Linked DNA regions of Homo sapiens. The protein of the gene in region 2 purifies or fractionates together with the protein of the main gene of each other region. This does not show direct contact. Each region holds a gene or a part of one and is shown on either strand. Other genes may lie near its edges.

Region 1 (4,296 bases), on a different chromosome or scaffold from region 2:
CAGCCCTGCTTACCAGAGGCAGCTGCTTTCGTCTCTATAGCTGATTCTTCTGATATTCACCTCCATGTTCTAAATAATATGCTTCGACTATTATTTCTTGATTTTTTTTCAATCTTACACTTTATTTTTGCCATCCTGGAAGAAGGGGATTTTTTTTACCGTCTTACACTACCCCATCAATTCTTATACCAATTACACACTCACACACATGCACTTAGCACACACATTCTCTTCCCCTTCTACCTCACGCCCTCATGCTTCACATAAAGTTACTTCATATTTTTTGTTAGCTTAATATTCAATGTTTATTTTATTGTGACAGCCTTTTCTTTATTGATGAGCTGTGGCATTATGAAGTTCCTTTTCCTGTACAACTTTGTTTCTCCTGGAGTTAATAGTTGTCTTATTTTTTCAGTTGCTTAGGTCAGTCATCCTCAAACTCTTGACAGATCCGTAAAACTCTTCCCATTATAGACAGATTTATTGGGTATTTTCTGTTTCTTGTTTCTCACAGGAATGTTTTTCCTGGAGCCCCCTGCCCTGTTCCTTTCTCAACTGGTTGTTTTCTAGCTCACTGCACAGCCGCACTCCTCCACCTTCCCTTCATTATCACCCTGAGAATTCCCTTTGCCTCCCCCGTGCTAGTTTTTGGTTTTGTGGGTCTTGCATTTTCCTCTTCCACGGTTTATACTCTGATATTAGTGAAGTTTGTCTTTTATTACCTTCTTAAAGGGTGTGAGGGAGGCAAGTTTTTGAGACTATATACCTCTGAAAATTCTACCCTCCCTTTGATAGATAGTATTGGCTAGATATCAAATTCTAGGGTGGAGATAATTTTCCTTCTTTATTTATGTCTGTTTTCCATTCATTATTCAGTCACTTGGTGGGCTCTTTCTTTCTTTCTTTTCTTTCTTTCTCTTTTTTGACAGGGCCTTGCTCAGTTGCCCTGGCTAGAGTGCAGAGGCGTAATCCCAGCTCACTGCGACCTCAAACTCCCAAGCTCAAGTGACTCTCCCACCTCAACCTCCTGAGTAACTACTGGGACTACAGGCACGCGCCACCACGCCTGGCTGGTTTTTGTGTTTTTAGTAGAAACAGTTTCACCATATTGCCCAGGCTGGTCTCAAACTCCTGGGCTCAAGCCATCCTCCCACCTTGGTCTTCCAAAGTATTGGGTTAACTGGTGTGAGCCACAGCGCCCAGCCTCAGTGGGCCTTTTCTATCTGGAATTTTATAAGCTTCAATTCTAAGGAATTTTTTTTATTATTTCTGTAATTATTTCTTCATACCCATTTTCTTAGTTTGTTCTTCCTGGGATTCCTGTTAGGTGGTTGCTAGACCTCCTGGTTTAACCTTTTTTCCTTTCTCTCTCTCTCTCTCTCTCGTCTCTTCGTTTATTAAATTTAGCTTTATGGGAGAATATTTCTGATTGGTTTTCTAACACTTCTACTAAATTTTTAATTTTCCCAAAATGTTCTTTCTTATAGCTTCCTATTCTTGTATTATGGATGCATTATTTTCTCCTAATCTCTTTAATGATCTTTATTATAACTTTTGAAGATTTTGTCTTGTTCTCTCACACTGTTTTCTTTCTCTTAGTTCCTCTTGTCTGTTTTTACTCTAGTCTGTTATGTTAGAAGCTTTTTTCAAATGTCTGAGTTTCCTTCCTGGCCTGATTTTTTAAATTAATTAATGAATTAATCAATTTGAGAGGGGATTTCACTCTGTCACCTAGGCTACAGTATAGTGGCATGATCATAGCTCACTGCAGCCTTGAACTCTTGCACTCAAGTGATCCTCTCACCTCAGCCTCTTGAGGAGCTGCGACTACAGGCCCATGCCACTATGCCCAGCTGATTTTTTTATGTGTGTGTGTGTGTGTGTGTGTGTGTGTATACACAGGTGTGTGTGTATGTGTGTATATGTATATATACATATATATACACATATATACACACATATATACATATATACACACATATATACATATATACACATATATACATATATACATATATATACATACATACACACACACACACACACACACACACACATATATTTGTACCCATATGATCTGAGACATTAAATTTTTTTTTGTAGAGACAGGGTCCCACTTTGTTGGCCCTGGCTGGTCTCGAACTCCTGGGCTCAAGCGATCCTCCTGCCTTGGCCTCCCAAAGTACTGGGATTACAGGCAAGAGCCACCGTTCCTGGCTCTGGCCTGTTTTTAAAGAATGAGGCACTAAAATACAGGCTGGAAGTTCTTTGTGATATATCAGGCTTGTCAACTGGTGGGCTTGACTATAGGATTATGAGGCAAAGACCTAGCTATTTTGTTTTGTTTTGTTTTTTTGAGATGGAGTCTTTCTTTGTTGCCCAGGCTGGAGTGCAGTGGCGCAATCTCGGCTCACTGCAACCTCCGCCTCCCAAGTTCAAGCGATTCTTGTGCCTCAGCCTCCCAAATAGCTGGAACTACAGGCATGCACCATCACACCCAGCTAATTTTTGTATTTTTAGTAGAGATGAGGTTTCACCATATTGGCCAAGCTAGTCTTGAACTCCTGACCTCAAGTAATCTGCCCGCTTCAGCCTCCCAAAGTGCTGGGATTACTGGTGTGAGCCACTGCACCTGGCCAAGGACCTAGCTGTTTTATTGGAGGATCTCAAATATCAGTGTCTGTAGAATTTCTCCAGAGATCTTCTATTCTCTGGCTAGAGGACAGGGAAGTATAATGTGTCTGTCTACCAACTTTCTAGAAACTGAACAAGGGAAAAGGGCTAGGAATTTTCTCTAACTATAAAAATAAAGGTATCCAGAATCCTCCCTATGGCCTATAAAAGCCTGCATGATCTAGTTTCGCATCAGTTTCTTTTCCCAGGAAACTTACAAGAATAAGACTGGGGGACTGAGCTACAGCTCCCAGTGCTGTATCTGGCCTTGAGGCTGCAACTGAGACTCATCTTCTCCCATCTCTGCTACTCCTCCAGATTCCCTTCACCCTCATCTATCACTTCTGCTTATCTAGACAGGGTGGCCCAGACCCTCATCTCGGAGGAGTCTGGAGGACCCTGGCTACCGCACTTGTCCACTAACCATCAAAATTGGGCAAGGGGTACTCTAAGAGACGTGTATCAGCACCCCAGCTCCTGATGACCAGGGCCGATTGCTTCTGCCAGTGTAGTGACTCATTGCCTTGTCTGCTGGACTTACGGCATGGGATTCTAAATTAATTGGGTGGCAGTCGTAACTTAAAGTTAATGGGATGCTTACTATGTCCTCTGGTAGAAGCATCCCTTCTCTGGGAACTGGGACCTCTAGACCCACAGATCTAGAGCTGTAGTGATAGGAAGCAAAGTGTTCCCAAGTGGGTCCCTGGGAATGACGATAAGCAAGGTCACTTCTCTTTCTACCCTTGGTCCCCAGGCCCATGTCTTCTGCCAGTTGGGAATATAGTACAGCGTAATGGTGATTGATTCAGGATGTGTAGCACAACTCATCCTCGCAGGACAGTGTCTTCAGGCTGTGCCACTGCTCTGAGTTGACACATAAAATTATCTGCCTTACCCTTGCATCTTTTAGGTCTACAGGTGGTGCTCATCTCTGCCATTCGTCCTGGGATATGGTTTTATTTTTTCTTTACTCTTTTGGCCAGGGGGAGAGAATGGCAGCTTCATGCCTTTAATCCCAGCACTTTGGGAGGCTGAGGTGGGTGGATCAGTTGAGGCCAGGAGTTCAAAACTAGCCTGGCCAACATGGTGAAACCCCATCTCTACTAAAAATACAAAAATTAGCCAGGCATGGTGGTGTGCGCCTGTAATCCCAGCTACTCGGGAGGCTGAGGCATGAGAATCACTTGAGCCTAGGAGATGGAGGTTGCAGCGAGCTGAGATCGCGCCACTGCACTCCAGCCTGGGCAACAGAGCGAGACTCTGTCTCAAAAATAATAATAACAAAATATTAGCTTTATTGATGAATACCTCATACACCATAAAAGCTAGTGTTTATAGTATAGTCACAGAGCTGCACAGCCATCACCACAATGTAATTTTAGAATATTTCTGTCACTCCATACCCTTTAGCCGTCCCCAGCTCTCCCCTCACCCAGGCAACCACTAATCCACTTCTGTCTCTGTAATTTTTCTGTTCTGGACAGTTCATATGCATGGAATCATATAAAGTTTTTTCCATATCTGCTTTTTTCTTAAGTTGACATATAATAATTGTATCCATGTCCGCTTTTAAAATGCAATTTGACTTTCACAGTTTAGCTGAATGCTTTCACTTTCGTTATT
Region 2 (5,094 bases):
ACCTTTAGCCTGGATTCCCAGTTCTCGTGTACCAGTGTCACATTTTGTAGCTGTCAGGAGCCCAAAATAGAATGAAGAGATCTGTAGGGGAGGAGCTTTCATCAGCCAAACCATTTCTTTCATAATTAATATTAAATTGATAGTAAAACTAGGTATTTCCAGCTTTTTTCATATCACGAATGTAAGACAGATACCAGTACCTCTTACGCAGAGCTCAGCTCATCCGTTCCTAAACTGGGGTACAGAAGCCCTCCTGGCCCCTGGGATGGTCCATAGATAAGTATCAGAGGAGTCCATGTACCCCAGGAAAACGTATGCACAATTTTACTAATGTATTTGCAGTGTTTTGGGGGCAGGGCCTATGGTTTTTAGCACGTAAGAGTGTGAGAGGATCCCAGGAAGATTAAGAATTGCTATAGTCAAATGCAGAAAGTACAGTTTTACAAAGGGCCATTCTGTGTCACCTAGCAAATGATCTCTTTCATCCTGCCCTCTTGCTACTTCCTAATCACGATTCATTCCATTTTTCCATCTTTTTCATTTGATATCAATCTATTAGTGAATGCTTTGCGAACTATAAAAATGAATCAGAAGTGGATCCTGCTTTTATGGCGTTTACAACCAAGTAAAGGAGATTGAGTCATGGAATGTAGAGTTAAAAGGAATTGCAAAGATCTTCTGGTCCAGCTGTCTATCTAATGCTTAAATCCGTTTTCAAACAGCTCCGTTGAGTTCTGTCCACCTGTGCTTGATGGCTTCCAGTGCTGAGGGTCACCGTCTCCCAGGATGACCTCTGTGGACAGCTCCAGCTATTCAAAAGTTCCTCTTTACACTAAATTGAGTCCACATCTGACTGCCCATGACTTCCACCAGTCAGTCCTAGATTTCCTTCCCCGGCCCCCATGGGGTCACACAGAACAAATTTGTGGCCTCTTTCGTGCCCTAGTGCTTAAACATGTAAAAGGAGACCTCATCTCCTTCCGAAAACTTCTCTGAGCCATCACCCCAAAACCTGCAACTCTTTCTCAGGCGTCAAAGTTCTGAGTCCTTTCACCCTTTAACAGGGATTAAAATGTAAAATTGTTTTATAAAATTTGGAAGCTGAGACAGGAGAATCGCTTGAACCTAGGGAGCAGAGGTTGCAGTGAGCCAGGGTTGCACCACTGCACTCCAGCCTGGGTGACAGAGGAAGACTCCATCTCTCAAAAAAAAAAAAAAATTCTAGCTGTTGTAAAGCCATTCTTATAGGTGTTGCCCATTGTGTTCTTTATGACCCTTGTAGAGAGATTCAGAAGGTCATTCTTGTATCAGATGTCCTGAGATGTTTACTGTTATTTAATAATAATGTTCAGTGGATCTGTTACTATGTAGTTTATGAGTAACAAAGACCCAAAATAACAGTGATTTGAATATGACAGAAGTTTGTCTGTCATGTGAAAGTCTAGAGGTGGGCAGCCCAGAGCTGATTCTGCTCTTTGGTGCTCTTGGTGGATTCAGACTTGAATCTTGTTGCTCTGCCGAGAAAAACCTTCATCTCCAAAGCCACGTCGTGGCCCAGGATGGCTGCTCCAATGCCAGCCATCACACCGCCTTCCAGTCTGCAGTGGAAAGGACAAAGAAAAAGATGGGCCAAGGGCCTGCTCCTGCTGTCTTTTCAAGTTCCCCAAAGTGGCTGCAGGAGACCTCTGCTTACCCCTCATTGACCAGAACTCTGTCACATGGCTGCCCCCAGCCGCAGTGCAATCTTTGTTCTGGACAGCTGTGTCCCTAGCTGAAAAGTGAGGCTTCTGTTAATTTGAAAGAAAAGGGGTACAGCCATCGGGGAACAACAAGCTGTGGCTGTGCAGGCAGCACCGAGGCGACGCTGCTCCTGCTCAGGGCCTTGTGTTCTGCTCTTGCTGGAAAAGCTTCAGTGCAGATGTATCTTGGGTGGTCAAGTCAATTCACATCATTTTTGGAAGTAGATACAATATAAATAAGTGAGGCAAAATTAGGATAATTTCATCAACTCTGAAATGCATTGGTTGCCAGATACGCTATTATTTTATGTCCCTCTAAGGTAGGTTAAAAATGCTGCCAGTTACGGCGGGGCACAGTGGCTGACGCCTGTAATCCCAGCACTTTGAGAGGCCGAGGCAGGCAGATTGCCTGTGCTCAGGAGCTCGAGACTAGCCTGGGCAACGTGGCAAAACCCCATTTCTACAAAAAAGACAAAAAAAAATTATCCAGGCTTGGTGGCGCTCACCTGCAGTCCCAGCTACTTGGGGGGCTGAGACAGGAGGACCACATGAGCCCAGGAGGTCAAGGCTGCAGCGAGCCGTGTTCATGCTGTTGCACTCCAGCCTGGGTGACCGAGTGAGACCCCGTCTCTTAAAACAAAAATGCTGCCAATTAGTCTGTGACCCGCCATCATTCGAAAGATGCATCCTGACTTGAGAGATGTTAAAATATGAAAATGTACATCTCTGAGTTGATGAAATAGGGTTCCTGAACCAAGTACTTGTCTTTCTTAGGAAATGTAGGCGTAATGTTTTGACGTATCAAAGAAGGTTCCCGAGAGGATGAGGACAGTGCTGTTGACACCCTTGCTGTCTTAGTGTTTCCCTTACAGTGCATCTTTCATTGTTATGTTGATTTTATATGATTAGTATGCTCACTATGGTGAACGAATTGGAAGATATTATTTGATTTGGGCAACTTAGTTCAAATTGAATTGTTTCCTTCAGAGGTCTTAACAGACTGAAGTAGTTAAGTCTAAATAGAGCGTTGAACGAAAGAAAGCCTGACTTGGTTTGAGATAAGATGTCTGACAGAGGAATCTTGGGAAAAGCTGTTTGGAGAGTTGTCTTGCACAATTGTCTTATGTATCGTGCTTGAGTGTTTTCATTCCTTGTGCTGACCACAACACAGAGATGGGCTTGATCTGTCGCACATTGGAGGCCTGGGATTTATCTTCTCCTTTTCAGGAAATGAATGGGGTGCTGAAAGGAATGCTCTCAGAATGGTTTTCCTCCGGGTTCCTGAACCTAGAACGGGTTACCTGGCATTCACCGTGTGAAGTGCTTCAGAAAATCAGTGAGTAAGTATTACGGTTTTCATTTTCTTTGTACATACATTTTTCATATATATTTGTGTATGTTTTATATTGGCTAAAAGCTAATCTATCTCCATTCATATGTACAGTTTATTTCAAGTCTAATAAAATCCAAACACAGTATTTGCAAATGCTGCGGCTGTCACCACACATGATACTAAGATTATGGAGGAAGACGAAAGGGCACCAAGAGAAACTGATATGTCTGTCAGTGACCTGCGTGTGAGGTCTTATTTGTGTCCTCTTATTTAAAGCAAACACACCCATTTTCGCTCGTCCCAAGACCCCGTGATCAGAGTTGTAGAAACTCACTGGACCAAGCGTTTGCATTCGTAATCAAAACAGTATTTAGCCCACCTGGTGGTTAAGATTTCTCCCTGAGTTAAAATCTCTAAACAAACTATATCATGTGTTAGTTACATCCAGGACCCGTATGACACAGGCTAGCATGTCACGGTGCCTTCACTACCTTTGCACGTAGGCATCTTCACATTACATGTTGTCCCATGGAATCCATGGTTTGAAAAGTGTCCTATTTGAAATGTAACCAATTCAATTCAAAGGGCTGACAGTGCCTGCTGCCATTTCACATGCTGAAAACAAAATAGCGGTGGGGCGAGATTGCTGGAAGACACCAGATGAGCCCCCTGATTGCAGCACTGACGGCTTCACAGAGATCCCAAGGAAAGAAAAGACAGTGTTCAACACCAAGCGTTTGATTAGGTTTCACGTTAAAATCTGCATGAATCCTTCCCCGGAGCCTCACAAACTCCTTTTAAAACTGGGGTTAAAACTGGAGCACAATTTTGTGTGTAAAATGGTCATTCACTGTAGTTCCTCTCAGTGGGTGCTGTTTCTCATGAAAATGACTTTCTTTGAATTTTCCAGAAGAGTCCATTAAAGCTCTATTTAAAGAACTTGTTTGACTTAGACGAATAGTATGAATAGGAGTCAGCAGCCGTTGCTTGTGAATTATGCATTTGTCTTGTCTCTTTATAAATTCCGCCCCAGGGCTGAGGCTGTGCATCCTGTAAAAAACTGGATGGACATGAAGCGCCGCGTTGGGCCCTACAGAAGGTGTTACTTCTTTTCTCACTGTTCGACCCCTGGGGAGCCCCTGGTCGTTTTGCACGTGGCACTGACTGGTGACATCTCCAGCAACATCCAGGTACCTGCGATGGTCAATTCGGGACAAGATGGGCACCCCATAGAGCCCCTTGTGTTTTTTGTTTTGTTTTGTTTTTACTTGATTTTATCCTCCTTTTTTTTTTTTTTAAATAAATGGTTTTGGGCTTTTTTAAATTGGTTAAATAAAATCTCCAGATTTGTAGGTGTAGAGCGTAGAAGTGTAACAGGCAGACAGTTATGGAGCAAGGCGAGCATTCATCTGGCTGTGTTGATCTTAGGTTGAGATACAGTTAAAGTCTATCACAGAACATGTTTGTGAGGCAGAAAATAATTGTGAAGGAAGAAGGGACAGATACCTGATTCATACATAGTTTACCTTTACAGCTTTTGTTAAATGCCTGTGGGGAGTTTTGAAAGATACTTGATTAGAAAATTGAAAGAGGCACTCCATCCCTTATGCTTGATGTGGGCCGAGGACACTCCTTGGCGAGTGGAGGTTATGGGACTTGTGGTTGATAGCCCCGTCTGTGGCAAGCTGCTCTGCTCCTGGATGAGTTTGGCAAGAATGTCTGAAACACTCCTGCAGGCCCGTGGGGGCAGAAGAACCAGGGAGCACATTGCAGGGTCTGGAAATAGGAGTGCTAAAGATAGGTGGCAGGGAGCATGAGACCCCTGGGGCATTGCAGGTTTGCTCAGACCAAGAGGACATGAGTGGCTGTTAGGAAGCTAAGTGGATGATGGCCCATCACAAGATGAGTGCCCTAAGCAGGTGTCCTGCTGAGAAGTTAGAGAAGCTGAGTAGGGCAAATGAGCAGACATTCCTGATCACCAAGGAGAAACACATTCCCTTACAATGTTTGTGTGTGAAAGAG

The links. The genes of interacting proteins can lie anywhere in the genome.
Region 1: the proteins of MLYCD (region 2) and TAMM41 purify together in Homo sapiens (co-immunoprecipitation; one large-scale study listed by IntAct). This does not show direct contact.

What each region holds. Positions count from the first base shown.
Region 1 is NC_000003.12:11,811,590-11,815,885, reverse strand, and holds part of TAMM41 (phosphatidate cytidylyltransferase, mitochondrial isoform a precursor), read left to right. Parts: intron 1-4,296. UniProt on the Homo sapiens protein: Catalyzes the conversion of phosphatidic acid (PA) to CDP-diacylglycerol (CDP-DAG), an essential intermediate in the synthesis of phosphatidylglycerol, cardiolipin and phosphatidylinositol.
Region 2 is NC_000016.10:83,904,021-83,909,114, forward strand, and holds part of MLYCD (malonyl-CoA decarboxylase, mitochondrial), read left to right. Parts: intron 1-2,966; coding exon 2,967-3,079; intron 3,080-4,105; coding exon 4,106-4,262; intron 4,263-5,094. UniProt on the Homo sapiens protein: Catalyzes the conversion of malonyl-CoA to acetyl-CoA.